Linked DNA regions of Homo sapiens. The protein of the gene in region 5 purifies or fractionates together with the protein of the main gene of each other region. This does not show direct contact. Each region holds a gene or a part of one and is shown on either strand. Other genes may lie near its edges.

Evidence for each region.
Region 1: the proteins of SLC35A5 (region 5) and MGAT5 purify together in Homo sapiens (affinity purification with mass spectrometry; one large-scale study listed by BioGRID and IntAct). This does not show direct contact.
Region 2: the proteins of SLC35A5 (region 5) and P2RX4 purify together in Homo sapiens (affinity purification with mass spectrometry; one large-scale study listed by BioGRID and IntAct). This does not show direct contact.
Region 3: the proteins of SLC35A5 (region 5) and WDFY1 purify together in Homo sapiens (affinity purification with mass spectrometry; one large-scale study listed by BioGRID and IntAct). This does not show direct contact.
Region 4: the proteins of SLC35A5 (region 5) and CCDC126 purify together in Homo sapiens (affinity purification with mass spectrometry; one large-scale study listed by BioGRID and IntAct). This does not show direct contact.
Region 6: the proteins of SLC35A5 (region 5) and STX12 purify together in Homo sapiens (affinity purification with mass spectrometry; one large-scale study listed by BioGRID and IntAct). This does not show direct contact.
Region 7: the proteins of SLC35A5 (region 5) and PI4K2B purify together in Homo sapiens (affinity purification with mass spectrometry; one large-scale study listed by BioGRID and IntAct). This does not show direct contact.

The regions. Positions count from the first base shown.
Region 1 is NC_000002.12:134,341,072-134,344,571, forward strand, and holds part of MGAT5 (alpha-1,6-mannosylglycoprotein 6-beta-N-acetylglucosaminyltransferase A), read left to right. Parts: intron 1-518; coding exon 519-688; intron 689-3,500. UniProt on the Homo sapiens protein: Catalyzes the addition of N-acetylglucosamine (GlcNAc) in beta 1-6 linkage to the alpha-linked mannose of biantennary N-linked oligosaccharides.
Region 2 is NC_000012.12:121,216,629-121,220,128, reverse strand, and holds part of P2RX4 (P2X purinoceptor 4), read right to left. Parts: intron 3,175-3,500; coding exon of another isoform or gene 3,127-3,174; intron 2,996-3,126; coding exon 2,848-2,995; intron 1-2,847. UniProt on the Homo sapiens protein: ATP-gated nonselective transmembrane cation channel permeable to potassium, sodium and calcium. CTP, but not GTP or UTP, functions as a weak affinity agonist for P2RX4.
Region 3 is NC_000002.12:223,935,336-223,938,835, reverse strand, and holds part of WDFY1 (WD repeat and FYVE domain-containing protein 1), read left to right. Parts: intron 1-3,500. UniProt on the Homo sapiens protein: Positively regulates TLR3- and TLR4-mediated signaling pathways by bridging the interaction between TLR3 or TLR4 and TICAM1.
Region 4 is NC_000007.14:23,642,382-23,645,208, forward strand, and holds the end of CCDC126 (coiled-coil domain-containing protein 126 precursor), read left to right. Parts: intron 1-549; coding exon 550-734; 3' UTR 735-2,327; downstream 2,328-2,827.
Region 5 is NC_000003.12:112,565,045-112,568,544, forward strand, and holds part of SLC35A5 (UDP-sugar transporter protein SLC35A5), read left to right. Parts: intron 1-3,500. UniProt on the Homo sapiens protein: Probable UDP-sugar:UMP transmembrane antiporter involved in UDP-alpha-D-glucuronate/UDP-GlcA, UDP-GlcNAc/UDP-N-acetyl-alpha-D-glucosamine and UDP-N-acetyl-alpha-D-galactosamine/UDP-GalNAc transport from the cytosol to the lumen of the Golgi.
Region 6 is NC_000001.11:27,797,219-27,800,718, reverse strand, and holds part of STX12 (syntaxin-12), read right to left. Parts: intron 1-3,500. UniProt on the Homo sapiens protein: SNARE promoting fusion of transport vesicles with target membranes. Together with SNARE STX6, promotes movement of vesicles from endosomes to the cell membrane, and may therefore function in the endocytic recycling pathway.
Region 7 is NC_000004.12:25,237,033-25,240,532, reverse strand, and holds part of PI4K2B (phosphatidylinositol 4-kinase type 2-beta), read right to left. Parts: intron 1-3,500. UniProt on the Homo sapiens protein: Together with PI4K2A and the type III PI4Ks (PIK4CA and PIK4CB) it contributes to the overall PI4-kinase activity of the cell. This contribution may be especially significant in plasma membrane, endosomal and Golgi compartments.

The DNA.
Region 1 (3,500 bases), on a different chromosome or scaffold from region 5:
ATATGTCTAGAATTTGTTTTGAGATAATCTAGAGGGGTTGGGAGAAAATGGGGGTATAGATTAAATATGCATTAATAATTGTTGAAGCTACACAGTAATTACTTTGGCATTGACTATATTGTCATGTTTGCCTTTCCATGTGTTTGAAATTTTCCATGGTAAGAGGTTAGAAGTATTTTAGCTGTAGATAAAAGACCAATAGTGTTAGAAAATACTGTCCTGTCTTACCTTCCTTTAATCCCGATTTTACAAATACACTGTGCTTTTAAAAGGTGGAATTATCTGTCCATACCTTGTACTCATAGCCATACCAAGGGCTGCAGTGATTTTGTTTCTCTAAAACCACAATGAAAAATGATTTCCTTCCTTTGTACCTTCTAGAAAAACAGCATTCCCCACCCTTTGATTTTGTTAGGATGTAAACATGACTTTGGGATTGGTCAATCATTTCTTGGCGCATTACTGTGCCTTTTGTATGTGGTTCAGTGTGAATCAGTATATGCCTCTTTGTTTTCCAGGTCCTCGTTCACCTGGGACTCCTGACCAAGGAATCTGGATTTAAGATTGCAGAGACAGCTTTCAGTGGTGGCCCTCTTGGTGAATTAGTTCAATGGAGTGATTTAATTACATCTCTGTACTTACTGGGCCATGACATTAGGATTTCAGCTTCACTGGCTGAGCTCAAGGAGTAAGGAGATTACTTTTCAATTTTAAAATCAGAATACAAAAAAGAAATTGTAAACTCTTAAAGTATTACCTCTATTAGTGTATAATTTTTTGTCGAGGAAAATGAAAGTGATAATTCACTAAACAGGAGATAAGAAGATTATTTTCAGGAGCTAAATACATACACTGTGAAAAGGATAATATGTTTTCATTGTCGCTGAAGGCTCCAGAGGCTTCATAAATGAATGCCAGAAAATTCAAACTAAGGAGCTTATTCTTTGCTATTACAGGTGCTTCCAACATCTGGAGCACAAAACATTATTGACTTTCCTAATTCCCTGTCTCTTGCTGAAATTCATACCACTGCCTACTCAACATCAATCTTGCTAAATCTTGAAACAGGGCAGGTTCCTGTTTGTAATTCAATTTGGATAGAATAAATTTCCTGAAAGCCCTGAGCTGATCCTTTTTCAATTAGCCAACTTTCAGCTGAGTCTGTTAACTCTACTTGGGTTTTTCATTTCACTGAAATTTGCTTCTAGCTCCAGCCCTCCTGTAATCCCTTCTATATTGGCATAGCTGGCTGAGCAGGGACGCTTCCATCCCCTGCAGTCACTTAGGATTACTGCCCATGGAGACTTCCCACCCAACAGTCAAGTTGCCATGTTGCTATATGTCGTATATTTCCAGAAGGAATACCTTGAATGAACATTCTAGAGCTCATTGAGATGAGAGACATGTTAAAACAATATATGGTGGCTCCCAGCACTTCGGGAGGCCAAGGTAGGTAGATCACTTGAGGCCAGGGGTTCAAGAACAACCTGGCCAACATGGTGAGACCCTGTCTGTACTAAAAATACAAGAATTAACCGGGTGTGGTGGCCCATGCCTGTAGTCCCATCTACTCGAGAGGCAGAGGCTGCAGTGAGCCGAGATCATGCCACTGCACTCCAGCCTGAGTGACAGAGCAAGTCTCTGTCTTAAAAAAAAAAAAAAAAAATTGGATACACAACCTACAAAGTGGCTGCATTTATACAGTTAGCAGTCACTCATCTGGTGTCTTCTGTAGGCTAGTTTTGGTGTCGGGCATACAGAGATGGCCAGCTTGTGGTCAAAGATCTTGCTGCCAATCTTTTGATAATTACAACTAATATATTAAAAATAATTACACAAATTCCAATTCTATTGGTGCTAATTGAGGTGTACGTGGATGCTAGAATGTAAGCACTGGGATTGCAGAAAACTGAGTATCGTTTGTCACTGTGTAGTGGGCACCTAGATAGTGCCTAGCAAGTAATGAGTACTCACATAACTATTTATAGAATGAATGAGTGAAGGAATAAATAGGTGAATGAATGAGTGGGTAGGTAAATAAATGGAGTGCTGTGGTAGAACCAGGGACAAGTACTGCCTGGGGAGGTCAGGAAAGACATGTTAGGGATTTATCAGTCAGAGACTGAATTTGATGGTCAAGGGAAAATTTGTTCAGTATGTCCTCACTTAACATCGTTGATAGGTTCTTGGAAACTAGGACTATAAATGAAATTATGTAAAATGAAACCAATTTTTTTCATCAACATTATAACCAGTGATTTGAAGGAAATGACTTTATTGGAGGGCCTGCTATCTGTTGTTTTGTTTAAAGTCCCAGTTTTCAGGAACCTATTGATGATGTTAAGTGAGGACTTAATTCTAGTAGTCTTTATGCACACTGGGGTCAGGGCTAGATGTGTTTTGTTTAAGAAGATAATTGTGGAAGCAGTATAGAGCAGTGGTCTTTAAATATATCTGTACGTTAGAACCACCTGGAGATCTTTGTATTTATTTCTTAATTTTGGGGGATCTTTTAAAAATCCCATAGACCATGCCATAGGCTAATTAGATCACAACCCTTGGGGGTAGGACACAGCCATAAGTATTTTGTGATGCCTCCAGGTAATTTCATTATACAGACAAGTTTGGGAAACACTGAACATGGGGTGGACCAGAGATCAGCAAACTATGGCTCAGCAGGCCAAATCAGCCCTCTGTCTTTTTTTGTAAATACAGTTTCATGGGAACACAGCCATGCCTATTGTTTACGTATCATATATAGCTGTCTTCATTCCACAACGGGAGAATGGGCCAGTTGTGACTGAAAATGTATGGCCTGCAAAGATGAAGATAATCACTGTCTGGCCCTTAACAGAAAGGGTTTTCTGACTCTTGGGAGGAAACTGGTTCTGCAGAACCTAGTTCTTTCATAAACAGGGGAGAGGAAGAAGGGTGGCTGATGTGGTGGTAGTACAGAGCTGTCAAGCAGAGTCCTGTTTGTGACTCTCGTCCTTTGAAGCAGGATATCCATAATTTGGTGAAGGATTATCATGGGGTGTTGCAGATAAGCAACAGTGGTGACTGATTAGTGAGTGGATGGCAGTAGGGTTAGCACTGACTCGTTCCTACACATGAAGTTGGCCTACCAATCAAGTACATCGTCACGCTCTGAGCGCAAGTATGGTTTTGTGTGGATGGATGCATGGGTGGGGGAAAGGGTGATTAAAAAAAACTGTAAACCATAGTGCTAGTTCTGTAATATGGTCAAGCGAGGAGGAAAAATTTGACATAAGAGAAAAAGTTAAGGAACAGTATGAGGCAGGTAGAAAGAAGTTAATACTATAGAGGCTAGAAATTGAAGACATTTAGAAAAAGGGGAGGGGAAGGTTAGTAAGGGTGCTAAGCGGTAAGAACAGGCTCTGGGGGAGAAAACTAAGTTATTGAGTATCTAGTATTCATTAGGCACTTTCTTTTCAATATCTCATTGTGAAGAACCCCTGAGAGACTGGTATCCAATGTTC
Region 2 (3,500 bases), on a different chromosome or scaffold from region 5:
AACATTCTAGAGAAGACTCGGTCAGGGTCAGCAAGTGACATTTCTCTTTGAAAAGGTTCTGTTTCCTCCTTATATGTATAAAGGTGCCAAATAATTGATTTAGAGTTTCTGGAAAGCAATTTGCTAGGGATGAGACTGAAGAATTGCTGATAATGACCTCCTCATATAAGGAATAAAAGGCAAAGACCCCAAAAGATTCTAGTTGGATCCTCCTCTCATTGGGGGCTGGTGTCCATCCATCTAATCTAATCTATCTATTATCTGTCTATCTATCTATCTATCTATCTATCTATCTATCTAATCTATCCTATATCTATCATCTGTTTTCTATTTATCGATTATCTATCACCTATCTAATCTATCCTATCATCTGTCATCTATCCTATCCCTTTTCTTTCTTTTCTCTTCTCTTTTCTTTCTTTCCCTTTCTTTCTCCTATCCTATCATTTATCTATTCTTTCTTTCTTTCCATCTATCTATCTATCTATCTATCTATCTATCTATCTATCTATCCATCCATCCATCCATCCATCCATCCATCCATCCATCCACCACCCATCCAATCAAGATGGGGTCTCACTATATTGCCCAGGCTGGTCTTGAATCCTGAGCTCAAGTGATCCTCCTGCCTTGGCCTCCAAAAGTGCTGGGACTACAGGCGTAAGCCACTGCGCCTGGCTGGGCCCAGGCATTTTAAAAGGAGATGCCCAAAGCTTTTAGCATTTCACACTCCTGAGGATAACAGTCAGTAGTGGGAGCCATCTTGGGGATCAGGGCAACTCAGAAACCAACCAGTCTGTAGACATCCCCAACCCCACGGTCTGACAAGTGGTGGAAGCTCTAGAAATAGCTGGCGTCCTCCAAAGGCCTAGGGCAAACTATGTTGGGAGACAAGGAGAAGGCCACAGGAGGAGGCGTGAGGATGTGGCATGAGCTGCAGCCTCTCTCCCGCCACCTGTCACGTTCCCAGGTGTTCAATGTACAAACACACTCTGCATTTGGTGTTAGAGAAGGCCGCTCCTACGACTCTCCTGAGTTATACTTGGAACAATCCAGTATGGTCTACTTTTCGTTTCCTATCTCTCCTTCTTTCTCTCTCTTTTAGAGTTGGGGTCTTGCTCTGTTGCCCTAGCTGGAGTGCAGTGGCGTGATCACAGTTCACTTCAGCCTCAAACTCCTGGGCTCAAGTGATCCTTCTGCCTCGGCCTCCAAAAGTGTTGAGATTACAGGCATGAACCACCACATCTGGCCTGTTTCCTATCACTTATCTACTTCAAATTAAGGGTAATTTCAGTCTGGAGATGAGCCAAGGGGCTGCAAATAGATGACTGTGTTCCATCTACAAAGAACACAGACGTCGTGAAAGCTCATGAGGAAAGCCCTGGGGAACTCACACGGCCCCCGCCCAGATCCACCACGGAAGGCTGAGTTGTGGGGTGCTCCTTTCCACCAAGGGACAAAAGCGGGGCTTGTGCCCTTCCTCATCTGCCCAGTAAACACACCGAGCATGACATTCCCAGAGCTCACCGGGACAAGGCTATGCCTGCACAGGAGGCAACCGTCTCTCTGCTGAGACAGGTACATGCTAACAGGACTGCCCCCTCCAGCCAACTGCAAATCCCCTGTTCCACTTGATCTTTTTTTTTGAGACGGAGTCTTGCTCTGTCACCAGGCTGGAGTGCAGTGGCACTATCTCGGCTCACTACAACCTCCGCCTCCCAGGTTCAAGAGATTCTCCTGCCTCAGCCTCCCTAGTAGCTGGGACTACAGGCACCCACCACCACACCCCACTAATTTTTGTATTTTTAGTAGACAGGGTTTCACCATGTTAGCCAGGATGGTCTCAATCTCTTGACCTCATGATACACCGACCTCGGCCTCCCAAAGTGCTGGGATTACAGGCATGAGCCACCGCACCTGGCCCTTCCTCCTGACTTTTATGGCTCATTAGCTCGGTCTCCTCTCTGGGGACCCCACAAGACCCTTCTCTTGAGAAGGCAGGGGGAAGAACACACCTGAAGAAAGAGTTTCTGGAGTTCTTGTTTTCCCTGGCAAGAGCTCTGAGCCAAGAGTTGGCAGCTTATCTCTACTGGTCGCCCTCGGTCCCTTAGCACATAGGCCATCTGGAGGGCTATGTCGGGTTTGACTGTGTGGTGCAGAGCTGTTACCAGGACTAAAGAGTCAATGTTTAACTTGGAGCTTTGCAGATTAACAGCCTGAAGACTAGTATGCAGCAGTAAACAATGTCTTCCCTTCCTTTCGCTCCCGATGGAGTCCTGTGCTGCTGTCTCTGTTTCCTTCTTGTTTGGGTTTTGGTCTCTAATGGTCTCTAATTCTTTTCTTTTTTTTTCTTTTTTTTTTTTTTTATAGAGATGGGGTTTCACCACATTGCCCAGGCTGGTCTCAAACTCCTGGGCTCAAGGTATCTGCCCGCCCCAGCCTCCCAAAGTGCTGGGATTACACACGTGAGCTACTGTGCCCGGCCTAAAGTTTTTACACTGTCTGAAAAGATTTACCTCGTGTATTTGGGACAATAATGCAAACCCAAAATGTGGAAAGGTGATATTTCCACTTGAATTTCTATCAGGATTTAAGACATTTGTTTTCTCATCTTTCAGGGCTTTCAGCCTGCCATGCTTTCAAGCTGAGGAACCACAGCTGCCTGGATACACTCTGTTAGATCCTAAGCTGAAAAGAGATCTGGCTGCACCGTTTTCTTGGACTAAAACAATCATTCTGGGCATTGGTGATGTCAGGACTCAGGCCACGTCAATCATTAATCAAGTGTGCAAAGTCAGTAAAGAGCAAGGTGTCAGTGTTAGACAGAAGACACAGTGGGAGACACACCTGAGCTGGTATCACATAATCCGCCACATCCCAGATCCGGAATCCAAGTTTAGAAGTGTTGGTCACAGCCACGCCCTTGACCTTGGTCGTAACGGAGCTGACCACGGAGTCAGTTTCCTGGTAGCCCTTTTCCCACACAAACACCCACCTATAAAATAAAACAGGCCTCTTAAATTGCCATTAGGATTCAATGGATTTGAATTGATGGGGAAGCTTCTGCTGGCCAGTGGCTGGAAGTACGATGTTGACTAATTACATGACTTTCTACAAGCTACGTACCTTCTAGGGGACTCCATTTCCACTTCTGCCAAATGGGGATGGTAGCACCTAAACCACAGGAGGGTTTGCGGGAAATAAATGAGATGGTGCAGGTAAAGCACTCAGCACACTGATGGCACAGAGAAAACGCTCGATGAATACTGTCTTTATTACATTTGAGCATTTTCTCTTTTTTTTTTTTTGAGACGATGTTTCGCTCTTGTTGCCTAAGCTGGAGTGCAATGGTGTGATCTTGGCTCACTGCAACCTCCGCCTCCCGGGTTCAGGCAATTCTCCTGCCTCAGCTTCCCAAGTAGCTGGGATTACAGGCATGCGCCAACACGCCTGGCTAATTTTGTATTTTTAGTAGAGACGGGGTTTCACCATGTTGGCCA
Region 3 (3,500 bases), on a different chromosome or scaffold from region 5:
TTTTTTTTTGTCACCTTCTGGGATATATTTACCTGGGGTCATTCACAGATAGCCACCTAGTTCACTGTAATCAAACTGCATATGACAAAGCTAGATACGGTCAGCACTCCAAAGAGTATTAAGCCAATGTGGAATATCAAAGCTTAATGCCATTACACCTGGGAGTCACAGGTCATTAGTGGTTTGGGTGGTCAGCTTAGGGTTCTGCTTAGAAACCTTTATGGATTAATGTCTCGTGAATGGTTAATAGAAAATGGTACTACTTCTTGTATGAAGTCATTAGTATTTTGCTGAAGTAATAATTACCTTAAGCTCTTTAATTTAAATTTAAGTTTAAGAATTTGAACTACAGTGGTGACTTTCCTGGTAGGGGAAACAGAAAATAAGACTCTGCTTTCAGAGCGGAACTAAAATGGTGAGACAGTAGGAACCAGTATGTTTGCTTTTTGGACTTTTTTGCTGTGGACTGCACCAAAAATGTAGACAGTCAGTTGATTGAATGATACAATTTTTAAAAGGTAAAAGCTTTATAAAGCCTTATAAATAAGTTAAGGCTATAGGCCTACTGTCTTCACTTTTGAGAAATAGAGTTTGTGGATGGACGTACTTATACTGTTGCATTAGGGGCTCGTAGGCCAAGATTGGTTTCTGCAGGAAACTCAATTTTGTTTGTCCCAAGTTAAAGATAAATCTCATGTGATTTAAAATGTTTTGAGATGTTGCACTTAGGCTGGGAAAGAGTAAAGATTACAGAAAACCAACTTTTAGATGTTTTTTAGCATTTTCCTTTTTTAAAAATTATACCAAATATGTAATATATTTGCTTCCACTTAGATATATCTAAGTTTATTAAGATGGTTTGGGGAAAAATTTGTGTATTTACCAATTGTTCACATAGAAACAATCTTAAATAAATAACTTGATTTTTAAGTGTTATGCCTGGGAGGAAGGCTGGCATAGCTGGAATTCATTAGTTAATACAGAAAACCAGGATGTTAACTGCTGTATTTTCATTGTCATGCAGAGCCTAAAAGTAGACTTTAATTTGTGTTATAAAATAAACTGAAGACTTGAGAAGGCAGGAAGCCTGGGTGGCCACCCCACACATTTACTCCTGTATTGTTAGGGTGATCCTTCATTGTTACAATCATTTTCTTTTTATAGCATAGTTAAGAACAAAGGCTTGGGAGCCAGAATGCCTCAGTTTGAATCCCAGCCCTGTGATCTTAGACAAGTTATTTAACCTCACTGTATCACAGTTTTCTCATGTGCAAAATGGACATGAGTCCGTTTTGTACCTGCTTTACAGAGTTTTGTGAGGATTAGGTGAATTAAACCACGTGGAACAGTGCCTAGCACAGAGAAAACATTATGCAAGTGTTAGTTGTTATTGTTTTCATTCCCATTTATTTTCCATTTAATTGCTTTAATCTTAAAGACTGGGACAGAGAAAGCACTATACAAGTGTTAGCTATTATTATTTTCATTTCCACTTATTTTGCATTTTGTTACTTTAATCTTACGAAAGAGTAATATGTTTCTACTTTGTATGCATGTTTGTGTGTGCACGTGAATAAGTGAAAATAAAAAAATTTTTCCTGTTTGAATAGGACAATACCATTTGAGGGGTTATTTACAATCCTAAATTCTTAGAACTGCCTTTGAGTCATGCCTTTTCTTTATTTCCATATTTGGTTACTTGCAGGTCATGTCAGTGATTAGTTTCACTTAGACATCTTTCCCCTGCTATATTTGAGATCCTCAAGATCGGGTTCATTGATTCACTAGAAAGATTGACACATTATAGTCATACGCATGGCTGTGATTTATCATAGCCAAAAGACGCAAAACAAAATCAGCACATGGGGTGAAATCCAGAGGAAACCAGACACAAGGCTTCCAAGAGTCCTCTTCCTGTGGAGTCACAGGACAGGCTAATTCAGATTGAATTAAGACAACATGTGTGAAATATTGTTTATCAGGGAAGCTCCTTAGAGACTTTATTCAGTGTTAGAGGCTGGTCATGTAGGTGCCCTTGGCTAATGTTCCAAAATTCCAAACTCTCAGAAGGAAGGTAGGTGGTCAACATAAACCACATATTTTATACAGGCATGAAGCACAGTGAGCCATTCTTAGGAGTTAGGGAATGGTGAGGTCCCCTCTGGATAAACAAGGTCCCAGACACCTGCCAAGGGCCAACCTTGCAAGCAAGACTTTCTAAGGACAGCAGCAGCAGGCCTGCTGTGGGAACTCTTTTCTGCCCACCTGCCCATAATTACCCTAGTGTTTGTCCTCATCATCTTTTAAACCTCATTTTTCAAAGCCTATTAACTGGCTTCCCTGAGTTCCAGCATACTGTACTTGGATCTGTCCCACTAATCTCCTATCTTTAACTAGGCTTTTATTGTGTCTTTTTCCTGCTCATGACCTTTCATTAGCTCCTTATTTAATCATGTCTGTAAAAGGACTTTGGGGGCCGGGCGCAGTGGCTCATGCCTGTAATCACAGAACATGGGGAAGCTGAGGCAGGCAGATTGCTTGAGGCCAGGAGTTAGAGACCAGCCTGGCCAACATAGTCAAACTCTGTCTCTACTAAAAATACAAAAATTAGCCAGGTGTAGGGGCTCATGCCTGTAATCCTCCCAAGAAGCTGGGCTGAGGCACGAGAATTGCTTGAACCCAAGGGGCATAGGTTGCAGTGAGCCAAGATCATGCTGCTGCCCTCCAGCTTGGGCAATAAAGCAAGACTCTGTCCCCAAAAAAAAAAAAAAAAAAAAGGACTTTGGGAACCCCATAACTGCTCCCTGCTAAGCTTTATTTCCACCTTCTATCTCTCATTTATTATGGTTCTTTTGTGTCCAGTGAAGTCAGTGTGTGTTCTGTCCCACTCACACCTGGTACATTTCCCACCTGGGTGCCTTTGCCTCCCTCACCAGGAACCTCACTTGCCCTCTCTCCTGTATTCAGACCCTCCTTCATCTCCTAGATCCACTTCAAGTTCCACCTCCTCCATTGAATAATTCTTCCCAGCCCATCATTCTCTGTCCTTTCTGAGCTTCCTTCAACACTCCTAGTATATTACTGATGATGCCTAGTTAATTACAATCAGGTATTAGTTCCTGTTGCTTTGTGTTTATTCATCTTATCTTCCCACATAGTCTGTACTCCACCAGGTACTGCATAACTAGCTACTGGTTGAATGATACAGACTTAACCATTTCTGCACAGTAGACATTTCCTCTGCTGTGTTTAGCTTTAATAATCTGCTAGTTCTTTCCTAAGAAGCAGATGGTAATATAATGAATGATACTTGTTTCTAGAATTTAGGTATTCATCTTCCCTCTCTACAAAGTATGCTCAGCAAATCTTTCTGAGAGTTGTTAAGACATTATTAGCACATATATACTGATTTCATGATGTATTTTTGTCATACTTCATGGTGAAATAATCTCTTTATTCATTTTTCTTTGTCAACCACATACTACTTTGCTCAAAACACT
Region 4 (2,827 bases), on a different chromosome or scaffold from region 5:
CATTATATCGCACTAGAAAAGCGAGAGTTTCCCCCACATTTACAACTCTGAAATTCCTTTTGGAAACTCTGTAAATGATGTTGTTGATTTAAAAATTAGGGCCAGGAGCAGTGGCTGACACCTGTAATCCTAGCACTTTGGGAGGCCGAGGAGTGCGGATCACCTGAGGTCAGGAGTTCAAGAGCAGCCCGGCCAACGTGGTAAAATCCTGTCTCCACTAAAAATACAAAAATTAGCTGGGCGTGGTGGTGGGCGCCTGTAATCCCAGCTAATCAGGAGGCTGAGGCACGAGAATCGCTGGAACCCAGGAGGTGGAGGCTGCAGCGAGCCGAGATCATGCCACTGCACTCCAGCCTGGGAGACAGAGGGAAACTCCATCTCAAAAAAAAAAAAAAATTAGGCTTTTCCTATTTGTAGTATGAGTGCATTCTCTCTAGTACATTTTCCCTCAGATGACCCAGTAGTTGTTCACCTTTTTCCTTCAAACTGTAAAAACACAAAAATGAAGAGCTCTATTAATGTTAATTTTATTCTGATTTATTCCCCTAGCGGATCTGAAAAGAACAATTGCTGTCCTTCTGGATGACATTTTGCAACGATTGGTGAAGCTGGAGAACAAAGTTGACTATATTGTTGTGAATGGCTCAGCAGCCAACACCACCAATGGTACTAGTGGGAATTTGGTGCCAGTAACCACAAATAAAAGAACGAATGTCTCGGGCAGTATCAGATAGCAGTTGAAAATCACCTTGTGCTGCTCCATCCACTGTGGATTATATCCTATGGCAGAAAAGCTTTATAATTGCTGGCTTAGGACAGAGCAATACTTTACAATAAAAGCTCTACACATTTTCAAGGAGTATGCTGGATTCATGGAACTCTAATTCTGTACATAAAAATTTTAAAGTTATTTGTTTGCTTTCAGGCAAGTCTGTTCAATGCTGTACTATGTCCTTAAAGAGAATTTGGTAATTTGGTTGATGTGGTAAGCAGATAGGTGAGTTTTGTATAAATCTTTTGTGTTTGAGATCAAGCTGAAATGAAAACACTGAAAAACATGGATTCATTTCTATAACACATTTATTTAAGTATATAACACGTTTTTTGGACAAGTGAAGAATGTTTAATCATTCTGTCATTTGTTCTCAATAGATGTAACTGTTAGACTACGGCTATTTGAAAAAATGTGCTTATTGTACTATATTTTGTTATTCCAATTATGAGCAGAGAAAGGAAATATAATGTTGAAAATAATGTTTTGAAATCATGACCCAAAGAATGTATTGATTTGCACTATCCTTCAGAATAACTGAAGGTTAATTATTGTATATTTTTAAAAATTACACTTATAAGAGTATAATCTTGAAATGGGTAGCAGCCACTGTCCATTACCTATCGTAAACATTGGGGCAATTTAATAACAGCATTAAAATAGTTGTAAACTCTAATCTTATACTTATTGAAGAATAAAAGATATTTTTATGATGAGAGTAACAATAAAGTATTCATGATTTTTCACATACATGAATGTTCATTTAAAAGTTTAATCCTTTGAGTGTCTATGCTATCAGGAAAGCACATTATTTCCATATTTGGGTTAATTTTGCTTTTATTATATTGGTCTAGGAGGAAGGGACTTTGGAGAATGGAACTCTTGAGGACTTTAGCCAGGTGTATATAATAAAGGTACTTTTGTGCTGCATTAAATTGCTTGGAAAATGTTAACATTATATTATATAAGAGTATCCTTTATGAAATTTTGAATTTGTATAACAGATGCATTAGATATTCATTTTATATAATGGCCACTTAAAATAAGAACATTTAAAATATAAACTATGAAGATTGACTATCTTTTCAGGAAAAAAGCTGTATATAGCACAGGGAACCCTAATCTTGGGTAATTCTAGTATAAAACAAATTATACTTTTATTTAAATTTCCCTTGTAGCAAATCTAATTGCCACATGGTGCCCTATATTTCATAGTATTTATTCTCTATAGTAACTGCTTAAGTGCAGCTAGCTTCTAGATTTAGACTATATAGAATTTAGATATTGTATTGTTCGTCATTATAATATGCTACCACATGTAGCAATAATTACAATATTTTATTAAAATAAATATGTGAAATATTGTTTCATGAAAGACAGATTTCCAAATCTCTCTTCTCTTCTCTGTACTGTCTACCTTTATGTGAAGAAATTAATTATATGCCATTGCCAGGTAGAAGTTTGGAATAATTGTTTAGTCTCTCCTATTAGATGTGGACATTTTTGTTTTTGTTTTTGTTTTCAGGGATGAAATAAAATATATTATTTCTACCTACAAAGTATTACAGTCTTTTTTCTTTAATGTTGGTTGTGCATTTAATAAATGATAAATGGTTAAAAGGAATCTTAAGAAAAATTCGGTTTTGTTTCAATTCCAGATAACTTTTCCAAAAGAGAAAAATTGAAGGTTACCCAATAGTGCCTCTCATTTGATACTAGGGTAGGAGAGTCTGAGTGCAGAGATAGATTGGAGAACTAAGGCTTGACTTCTTAAAAATCAACAGTAAACTGATAATCTGAAATGGGTATGAGCTTCATTTAAAAATCAACAGTAGACTGTTGATTTTTAAGAAGTCAAGCCTTAGTATTTATATCTTCAGTTAATCTTAATTTGGACATTAGCACGGAGGGCATCACTAAAGGTACTAAAAACTTGCAAACTTTTATCAGGGTGTCTTTGGGTTTACTTTAAGCAAATATATGAATTAAAAAGTAATTTAAACATTATTTCAGGTAGTTAATGATAACTTAGGTCTCAGTTTTCAAGAAACACTT
Region 5 (3,500 bases):
TGGTCTACTACTTGGAGAGTCAGATGTGTACCCAAGTCTCTACTGCAGTTAACATTTACCTGCCAGGCACTAGGCTAAGTATTAGCAGCAGGTTCAAAGTGCATAAGATATAGACCTTGTCCTCAAGACTTAGTTTATTAGGAGAGACATGAATGTAAACACATCATGAAAATCCATTATAATAACTGCAATAATTGATATATCCTGAAGATGCAGAGATTGTCTAGAGGATAAAGTTATATATTCTGTTTGGTAGGGGATGATGTGGAGTTCAAATGGATCAGAGAACACTTCGCTGATTAGAAGTCAGTTGATCCACTAGAAGTCAAGGTGAACAAGGGGATTCAAAACAGAGGCAACAGCCTGTAAAAGGGAACAGAGGCATAAAAAAGCAGGATATGTTGTGAGAATATGTAGTTTGAAATTACCAAGCAAAAAGTTTAAGGACTCGTAGCCAGGCACAGTGGCTCATGCTGTAATCCCAGCACTTTAGGAGGCCAAGGCCGGCGGATCACTTGAGGTCAGGAATTTGAGACCAGGCTGGCCAACATGGTGAAACCCATCTCTACTAGAAATACAAAAAATTAGCTGGGTTTGTTGGCGTGTGCCTGTAATCCCAGCTATGAGGGAGACTGAAGCAGGAGAATGAACCCGGGAGGCAGAGATTGCAGTGAGCCGAGATCATGCCACTGCACTCCAGCCTGGGCAACAGAGCAAAACTGTCTCAAGAAAAAAGAAAAAAAAAAGTTTAAGGACTCAGAAGAAAGAGAAGGAGTGGTTGGCTGGAGAGAGGTTGGTAAGTCTCAGATTTTTAAGGACTTCATATTCCATGGTAAGGAGCTGGGACCTTAGTCTCTAGGCCAGTCTGAGGGATAAGGGATACTTGAAGGATTATAAATAGGAGAGTAAAATGAGGGACTGTTATGGTAGCTGGATGGCAGTGGAAAAGACAGGAAGCTCAATAGCCAGTTAAGGGGTTATTGCAAAGTAAAGCCATAGGTGATGAAGACTAACTTAGTGTTTTGGAAGTAGTAAGATAAATAAGGAGTATTCAGAACATAGAAAAGACAGGATTTGGAGAATGTATTGAATATGAAAATTAAAAAAGATAACATATAGCTCCAAGGTTTCTGGTTTGAATGCTGAGTGGATTGATGCTGTTCTTAGCTGAGATGGAGACTATTAGGAGGAAGAGTAGGTTGGGCAGAGTTTGAAAAGATTGTAGTTGAAGAGGTCAGGAGCTATGTCCCTACTGCAGTTTTCTGCAGTATCTGGCATGTCATGCACATGAGGGAAATACCAATTATATGAATAAATAGGAGGTAGGTTTTCGTTTGGATATTTATAGTGGGCAATAAGTTAAATGTTCTAGAATATAGATTTGGGGACATTAATGTCAAATTGATATTTAAAACTTAAGGAACAGAGAGAGGACTCATGCAGAATGAGAAAATAAAGAGGGCCAAACTCCGAGGAATGCCAGCATTTAAGTGACATGCGGACACCAGAAAAGCATTAAGGAGACATCATTAGCGAGATGGGATAACTAAATGCACATGACTCATAGAAAGGAAAGAAAGTTTGAAGACTGAGAAAGAATGGCAACATCATGATAAGCTAAAGATTAAAGGATACCCTTTAGAGTTAAGAATGAGAATATGTTTGATAATCTCAGAAAGGAGTTAGTTTCAGATATCAGATTACTTGGAGATAAGACCTGAATGGAAAGTGAGTAAAGGGCAGATAAAGAACGTTGATACTGTTTCAGGGAGAGATGGAGAAGGTATGGTAGCTAGAGGAAGTAGTATTTTATATTTTGTTTTTCAGATGCGAGAGTTTTGAGCATGTTTGTAGGCCAAGGGCAGTAAGCCAGTTAGTAGAGAGGAAGATAAAAAAGATACACTGGGTGTGGTGGCTCACGCCTATAATCCCAGCACTTTGGGAGGCCGAGGCGGGTGGATCACGAGGTCAGGAGATCAAGACCATCCTGGCTAACACAGTGAAACCCCATCTCCACTAAAAATACAAAAAATTAGCCGGGCGTGGTGGCGGGCACCTGTAGTCCCAGCTGCTTGGGAGGCTGAGGCAGGAGAATGACGTGAACCTGGGAGGTGGAGCTTGCAGTGAGCTGAGATCACGCCATTGCACTCCAGCCTGGGCAACAGAGCAAGACTCTGTCTCAAAAAACAAAAAACAAAAACAGACAAACAAACAAAAAGATACACTAAAGCCAAAGGAAATGGAGCCAAGTATCTGAGAAGGGAAGATTTGTTTTGAGTTGGAGTCTCGCTCTGTCTGGAGTGCACTGGCGCGATCTCAGCTCACTGCAACCTCCACCTCCCAGGTTCAAGCATTCTCTTGCCTCAGCCTCCCGAATAGCTGAGATTACAGGCATGTGCCACCATGCTCAGCTATTTTTTTGTATTTTTAGTAGATACGTGGTTTCACCATGTTGACCAGACGTGGTTTTACCATGTTGGCCACTCCTGACCTCAAGTGATCCACCTGCCTCGGCCTCCCAAAGTGCTGGGATTACAGGCATGAGCCACTGCACCCAGCTAGAAGGGAGGGTTTTAAAGGGGACATTGGATTAATAGTCGGGCCTTAGCCCCTTCCTCTGGGGCTGAAGGGAAACCAGTGAATGCCATGTAGAAAGGTATGTTAGTGTGGGCAGGAGATGTGTGGAGGGAAATCACATACCATGTTGTCATATGGTCTGGGATCGGCCGTGAAAGGACTGCAAGAAAACCACTGAAAAGCAAGAACAAGCTAAAGAACAGTGACAAGGGTTTGAAAGTTATAATCCAAAGTCCCCCCTTCTTATATGCACATGTTGGCTTATGTGTATCATGATGGATCATGAGAAGTATCATTGGAGGATAACAGAGTGTGAGTTAAGTCTAGCATTTAACTGAGAAAAAGGAGATGTTTTGACTATGCTTTGAATGATGGGGTAAAGTTGAACAGGCAGATATTTAAATTCAGGTGAACATTTATTAAGTGCCTGCTAAGTGCCAGGTATATGAACGTGACAAACATGGTCCATTTCTTGTAAGGATCTTCCATTCCATTTCACTTCACACACTTCCAATGAGACAAGTAGGGCCACAGAGGTTTAGAGGTAGTGCTATAAGAACAGAGATGAATAAAGAATTGATTCTGATTAGTTTGAGAAGGTCAAGGGAAACCACAGGAGAGTGGAAGAAAGTGTTCTGGATAGACAGTGTCCACTTGGCTTTTTTTCCCTACATTTGGCCAATTTTGGTTTAATGTGACTGAGAGAAGCAAGCAAATGTCTTCAAAAGTGGGGAAAATGCATTCCTGAAAATAGTACCCAATAAAGTTTATGTTTATCCTTGGCAAAATTGTAAAGCGAGTTGTTTGTAAGCATTTAGAAGAGACAGGTAACAGTTAAGATGAAGTCATACCAACCAAACCTCACTTCCTAATTCTATTGATTTGCAGTTTAGGATGTAGCTTTCCAACTCATCAGTGGGTTT
Region 6 (3,500 bases), on a different chromosome or scaffold from region 5:
GACAAAATCCTATCTCTACAAAAAATAAAAAAATTAGCCGGGCGTGGTGGTACACATCAGCTACTCAGAGGCTGGGGCAGGAGGATCATTTGACCCTGGAAGGTTGAGGCTGCAGTGAGTTGAAATCATGCCATGTACTCCAGCCTCAGCAATAGAGTGAAACTCTGTCTGAAAAAACAAAACAAAACACACACACACACACACACACACACACACACACACACACACACCACATACTGACAGCATTGTCCTGTTCTATGAACACAGAAGTAAAAACTCACCCCTGACCTCAAACAGCTGTCTATTTGTAAATAAAGGATATAGACAGACAAGTAACAAAGTTATTATAAATAACTGCTATATCCAATTGGTACTACAGGAGTTCAGAGGGCAGGAATAATCAGTAAGAACTCAAGCGGCCAAGAAAGGCCTCAAGAGAAGGTGGACAGTGAAGTAAGAGGAAGGCATGAATAAGCAGAAAGAAGGGGTAAGGCAAATCCAAGCAAGAGAATAGTGTGAGCAAAGGCATGGTGGCAGAACTTGAAGAGGATCTCTAGACAGACTGTTTGGTTGGAACTACACGTTTAGTAATGAGAGTAGCTAAAATACAAAATTGGAAAGTTAAGAAAGGGGCCAACCACAGCAGGTTTTAAATGCCAAGCTAGGCCGGGCGCAGTAGCGCATGCCTGTAATCCCAGCACTTTGGAAGGCAAGGTGGGTGGATCACTTGAGGGCAGGAATTATTCAAGACCGTCCTGGCCAACATGGTGAAACCCCATCACTACTAAAAATAGAAAAAATTACCTAGACATGGTGGCAGGCACCTGTAATCCCAGCTACTTGAGAGGCTGAGGCAGGAGAATTGCTTGAACCAGGAGGTGGAGGTTGCAGTGAGCTGAGATCGTGCCATTGCACTCCAGCCTGGGCAACACATGTGAAACTCCGTCTCAAAAAACAAAACAAAACGCCAAGCTATTGGGAGGATGAGGCAGGCAGATCACGAGGCCAGGAGATGGAGACCATCTGGCTAACATGGTGAAACCATGTCTCTACTAAAAATACAAAAAATTAGCCAGGCGTGGTGGCGTGCGCCTGTAGTCCTTTGCCACTTGGGAGGCTGAGGCAGGAGAACTGCTTAAACCTGGAAGGTGGAGGTTGCAGTGAGCTGAGATCGCGCCACTGCACTCCAGACTGAGCAAAAGAGCCAGGTTCTGTCTCAAAAAAAAAAACAAAAAAAAAAACAAGCTAATGAGTTTGGGGTTCAACCTCTAAAGAACAAAGAGCAATGAAGATTTTTGAGCAAGAAACATCATGGGTACAAAATAGTAACTTAGAAAAATTAGTCTGTGATGAGACCTGGGTCACCGTTTACACAAAGGTGGAATGGAAAAAAGAAACAAGTCAAACAGAACACTAATTCAATAGTCTAGGTTTAAGGTTAGGAGGACACAGTATCAGTAATAAAATCATAAAGAAATGAATTTAAGAAACATTTTGACTGGTGGTGGGGAAAGAGAGATAAAGTCAAGAATGACTGAAATTTCAAACCTGGAAGAGTGATGGTAATACTAAAAGCAAATTTAGATGAGCAACCCTTTTCTTCTGAGATTTTTATTTTTGCATAAACAAAATTATAACAATAACGGGGAGGACATCATTCCCTAACCTTACCGTGCAAAAATATTATCATAACTTTTAAATACATCATAAACATTTTCCATGTTACCATACTCTTCACAATTATGTTTTTGTTTTTTTTTTTTTTGAGACAGGGTCTTGCTCTGTCACCCAAGCTGGGGTGCAGTGGTGTGATCTCAGCTCACTGCAGCCCCAACCTCCCAGACTCAAATGATCCTCTCACCTCAGCCACCTGAGTAGCTGGGACTACAGATGTGTACCACGATGCCTGGCTAATTTTTTTTTTTTTTTTTTTTTTTTGAGACGGAGTCTCGCTCTGTCGTCCAGTCTGGAGTGCAGTGGCACGAGTTTTTTTTTTTTTCTTTTTTTGAGATGGAGTCTCGCTCTGTCACCCAGGCTGCAGTGCAGTGGCGCGATTTTTTTTTTTTTTTTTTTTGAGAGGGAGTCTCGCTCTGTCACCCCGGCTGGAGTGCAATGGCACAATCTCAGCTCACTGCAACCTCCGCCTCCTGGGTTCAAGCAATTCTCCTGCCTCAGTCTCCCGAGTAGTTGGGATTATAGGTGGCCACCATCACGCCTGGCTAATTTTTGTATTTTTAGTAGAGATGGGGTTTTGCCATGTTGGTCAGGCTGGTCTCAAACTCCTGACCTCAGGTGATCCGCCCACCTCGGCCTCCCAAAGTGCTGGGATTATAGGCATGAGCCACCGTGCCTGGCTAATTTTTGTAGAGATGTTGCCCGGGCTGGGTCTCAAACTCCTGTACTCAAGCAATCCACCCGCCTCAGCCTCCCAAAGTTCTGGGATTACAGGTGTGAACCACTGTGCCCGGCCATGATCTTTAATCGCTTACATATATTCCATCAAGTTGACCTAAATTTTATGTAAATAATCCTTCTAGATTTTTCACAGTTATTAAATATTATAAAGTAAGCCCCAATGTAATGGCTAATATTTATATAGTGCTTAAATTGTACCAGTACTACTGTAAGTGCTTTACATAATAATTCATTTATCTATACAATGACCTATAAATTAGGCATTATTATAGTCCCAACTTTACACATCAGAAAACCAAAGCACCACAGAGGCTATGTAATTTGCCCAGGATCACACAGTAAGTGACAAAGATGGATTTAAATCCAGGAAATTTGGCTCCAGAGTATATAGACTCTGTGTGTGTGTGTGTGTGTGTGTGTGTGTGTGTTTACCTTCAGAATTTTTTTTCCCCTTAGGGCTAATTAGCATGAGTGAGAATATTAGGTCAAAAGGCACAAACTTTTCTGTGATGTTAAGTATTGTCAATGAACTTAGTTAAGGGGTTTGGGAGAAACATGAGAAACTCAGTATAAGACAAGTTTTATATGAAGGTAGTTTATTTCAGGAGGAGATGTCAGAACATGAATTGAAGATATGGGCCACGCACTTAGAGGTGAAGGGGTTAGATTGGAAAAAGATCTGAGGTCATGATCATAAAGGTGAAAGGGAGGTCATAAAAGCAGGTGACTCCTAAGGAGAAAGCATACAGTGAAATAATTCGAGGATCAATGGCACAACCTTGGGGCATGCCCACTCTTAGGAGGATATGAAGTCCGGGAAGGAGGCTGACTCAACCTGGGGATCTCCAGAGTTGGGGGACACAATGAAAGAGAATCATGGCAAGAAGAAAGTTTCAGGGCAGACGGGATAGGCAAGAGGATCAAAGGAAACAGAAAAAAAGTGAATAGGCCAGGCATGGTAGCTCACACCTGCAATCCCAGAACTTTGGAAGGCCGAGGCAGGCGGATCACTTGAGGTCAGGAATTCAAGACCAACCTGGCCAACGTGGCAAAACCCTGTCTCTGCTAATAATACAAAAATTAGC
Region 7 (3,500 bases), on a different chromosome or scaffold from region 5:
TCAAAGCTCAACTCCATTAGTGCAGAGCCATACAATTAATACCCCTACTTATAGGGTTAGGAATGGCTACTGCTACAGGAACCAGAATAGCCAGTTTATCTACTTCATTATTCTACTACCACACACTCTCAAAGGATTTTTCAGACAGTTTGCAAGAAATAACAAAATCTATCCTTACTCTACAATCCCAAATAGACTCTTTGGCAGCAGTGAATCTCCAAAACCGCCAAGGCCTAGACCTCTTCGCTGCTGAGAAAGGACTCTGCACCTTCTTAGGGGAAGAGTGTTATTTTTACACTAACCAGTACGAGATGCCACCTGGTGTTTACAGGAAAAGGCTTCTGAAATCAGACAATGCCTTTCAAACTCTTATACCAACCTCTGGAGTTGGGCAACATGACTTCTCCCCTTTCTAGGTCCTGTGGCAGCCATCTTGCTGTTACTTGCCTTTGGACCCTGTATTTTTAACCTTCTTGTCAAATTTGTTTCCTCTAGCATCGAGGCCATCAAGCTACAAATGGTCTTACAAATGGAACCCCAAATGAGTTCAACTAACAAATTCTACTGAGGACCCCTGGACCAACCTGCTGGCACTTTTACTGGCCTAGAGAGCTCCCCTCTGGAGGACACTAAAACTGCAGGGCCACTTCATTGCCCCTATCCAGCAGGAAGTAGCTAGAGCAGTCATTGGCCAAATTCCCAACAGCAGTTGGGGTGTCCTGTTTAGAGGGGGGATTGAGAGGTGACAGTGTGCTGGTAGCCCTTGCAGCCCTCGCTCACTCTCGGCGCCTCCTCGGCCTCGGCGCCCACTCTGGCCGCACTTGAGGAGCCCTTCAGCCCGCCACTGCACTGTGGGAGCCCCTTTCTGGACTAGCTGAGGCCAGAGCCAGCTCCCTCAGCTTGTGGGGAGGTGTGGAGGGACAGGTGTGGGCGGGAACTGGGGTTGCGTGTGGCACTTGCGGGCCAGCGCGAGTTCCGGGTGGGCATGGGCTTGGCAGGTTCCGCAGTCGGAGCGGCTGGCCGGCCCCACCGGCCCCGGGCAGTGAAGGGCTTAGCACCTAGGCCAGCAGCTGCAGAGGGTGCTGCTGGGTCCCCCTGGGCCGGCACCGTGCTCGCTTTCTCACTGGGCCTTAGCTGCCTCCCCGTAGGGCAGGGCTCAGGACCTACAGCCGGCCATGCCTGAGCCTCCCCCTGCTGCTGTGGGATCCTGCACAGCCCGAGCCTCCCCAACAAGCGCCACCCCCTGCTCCATGGTGCCCCGTCCCATCGACCACCCAAGGGCTGAGGAGTGTGGGCGCAAGGCACGGGACTGGCAGGCAGCTCCACCTGTGGCCCCAGTGTGGGATCCACTGGGTGAAGCCAGCTGGACTCCTGAGTCTAGTGGGGACTTAGAGAACCTTTATGTCTAGCTAAGGGATTGTAAATACACCAATCAGCACTCTGTATCTAGCTCAAGGTTTGTAAATGCACCAATCAGTGCTCTGTATCTAGCTAATCTAGTGGGGACTTGGAGAACTTTTGTGTCTAGCTCAGGGATTGTAAACGCACCAATCAGCACCCTGTCAAAATGGACCAATCAGCTCTCTGTAAAACAGACCAATCAGTGCTCTGTAAAATGGACCAATCAGCAGGATGTGGGTGGGGCCAGATAAGGGAATAAAAGCAGGCTGCCCGAACCAGCAGTGGCAACCTGCTCAGGTCCCCTTCCACACTGTGGAAGCTTTGTTCTTTCGCTCTTTGCAATAAATCTTGCTGCTGCTCACTCTTTGGGTCCACACTGCCTTTATGAGCTGTAACACTCACCGCAAAGGTCTGCAGCTTCACTCCTGAAGCCAGCGAGACCAGGAACCCACCAGGAGGAATGAACAACTCCAGACGCGCCAGCTTAAGAGCCATAACTCTCACCGTGAAGGTCGCAGCTTCACTCCTGAGCCAGCGAGACCACGAACCCACCAGAAGGAAGAAACTCCGAACACATCCGAACATCAGAAGGAACAAACTCCGAACACACCGCCTTTAAGAACTGTAACACTAACCGCGAGGGTCCATGGCTTCATTCTTGAAGTCAGTGAGACCAAGAACCCACCAATTCCGGACACAATAGCACCAGTAGTTAAAACCATTTCTGCTGAAATGGACTTTAGGGAAGTTATAAGAACTACCTTTATGAAATTAATCACTTTAATCACAGATATTGTTCAGCATACAGCATTCACCAAGAGACTGTGACAGGCTACCCTTTGTCTGTTCTGTTTTGGTTCAAATAACCAGTTTATTTTAACTGTATAGACCACATGATTGTGTTTCTCTCAAGTTAGCTGCTCAGTAATTTCAAAAATCAAATCTGTGGGTTGCCTGCATCAAGCATCTGAGGTACATCTTGTGTAATCTTACTCCAGGCTCCATCTTCTCATCTTTCTTCCTTTTAAATGATTTTCTTATTCTGTTCACATATTTATAAACCACCATGAATCATTAAATGACTTACAAATTCACATTTTCTTTTACTTTGGCAGCTCTTTGTGAATTCTAACACTGTTTTCTAACTGTTAGGCTCTCTAACAGGAGCTAAGCGCTCCTGATTTGTATTAACTGGGACCTTGGAGAAGTCACTTCACTTCTTTGTGCTTTTTCTTTTTTTCTTTTGAGACAGGGTCTTTTTCTGTAACCCAGGCTGGAGTATAGTGGTGCAATTATAGCTCACTGGACTCAGTGTAACCTGAAACTCATGGACTCAAGCAATCCTCCTGCCTCGGTCTCCTGAGTAGCTTGGACTACAGGTGTGCACCAAAGAGGCCTCCCAAAGTGTTAGGATTACAGGCGTAAGCCACCATGCCCAGCCTCTCCCTATACTTTCTTAAAATGAGAACAAGGCCAGGCATGGTGGCCTTGTAATCTCAGTGCTCTGGGAAGCCGAGGCGGGAGGATCATCTGAGGTCAGGAGTTCGAGACCAGCCTGACCAACATGGTGAAACCCCGTTTCTACTAAAAATACAAAATTAGCCAGGCATGTGCCTGTAATCCCAGCTACTTGGGAGGGTGAGGCAGGAGAATCGCTTGAACCTGGGGAGTGGAGGTTGCAGTTAGCCGAGATTACGCCATTACAATCCAGCCTGGGTGACAGGAATGAAACTCTGTTCCCCCACTGCCACCCCTACAGCCACCCACTGCCAAAAACAAAAAAAAAAAACAAAAATAGTACTCACATCACAGGGTTGGTTATGAATTAATATATATGAAGCATACAGAACTATGCCTAGCGCATATTAACTGCTATGTAGGCATTAGCTGTCATTACTACCGAATTCACTGATTAAAATAACTAGAACAAGGAATGCACTAATCCTTCCACTTTGACACTGATCCAACAACACTATGGTTTATGCTGTTTGTAGGCTTTGTTAAATGCCTTGTTGAAGATAACAGACATATGACATTCTTCCACTGGCTAAAGTACATAAACCTCTTGCTTATATAAGTAAGAGTTAAGCATCATAAAT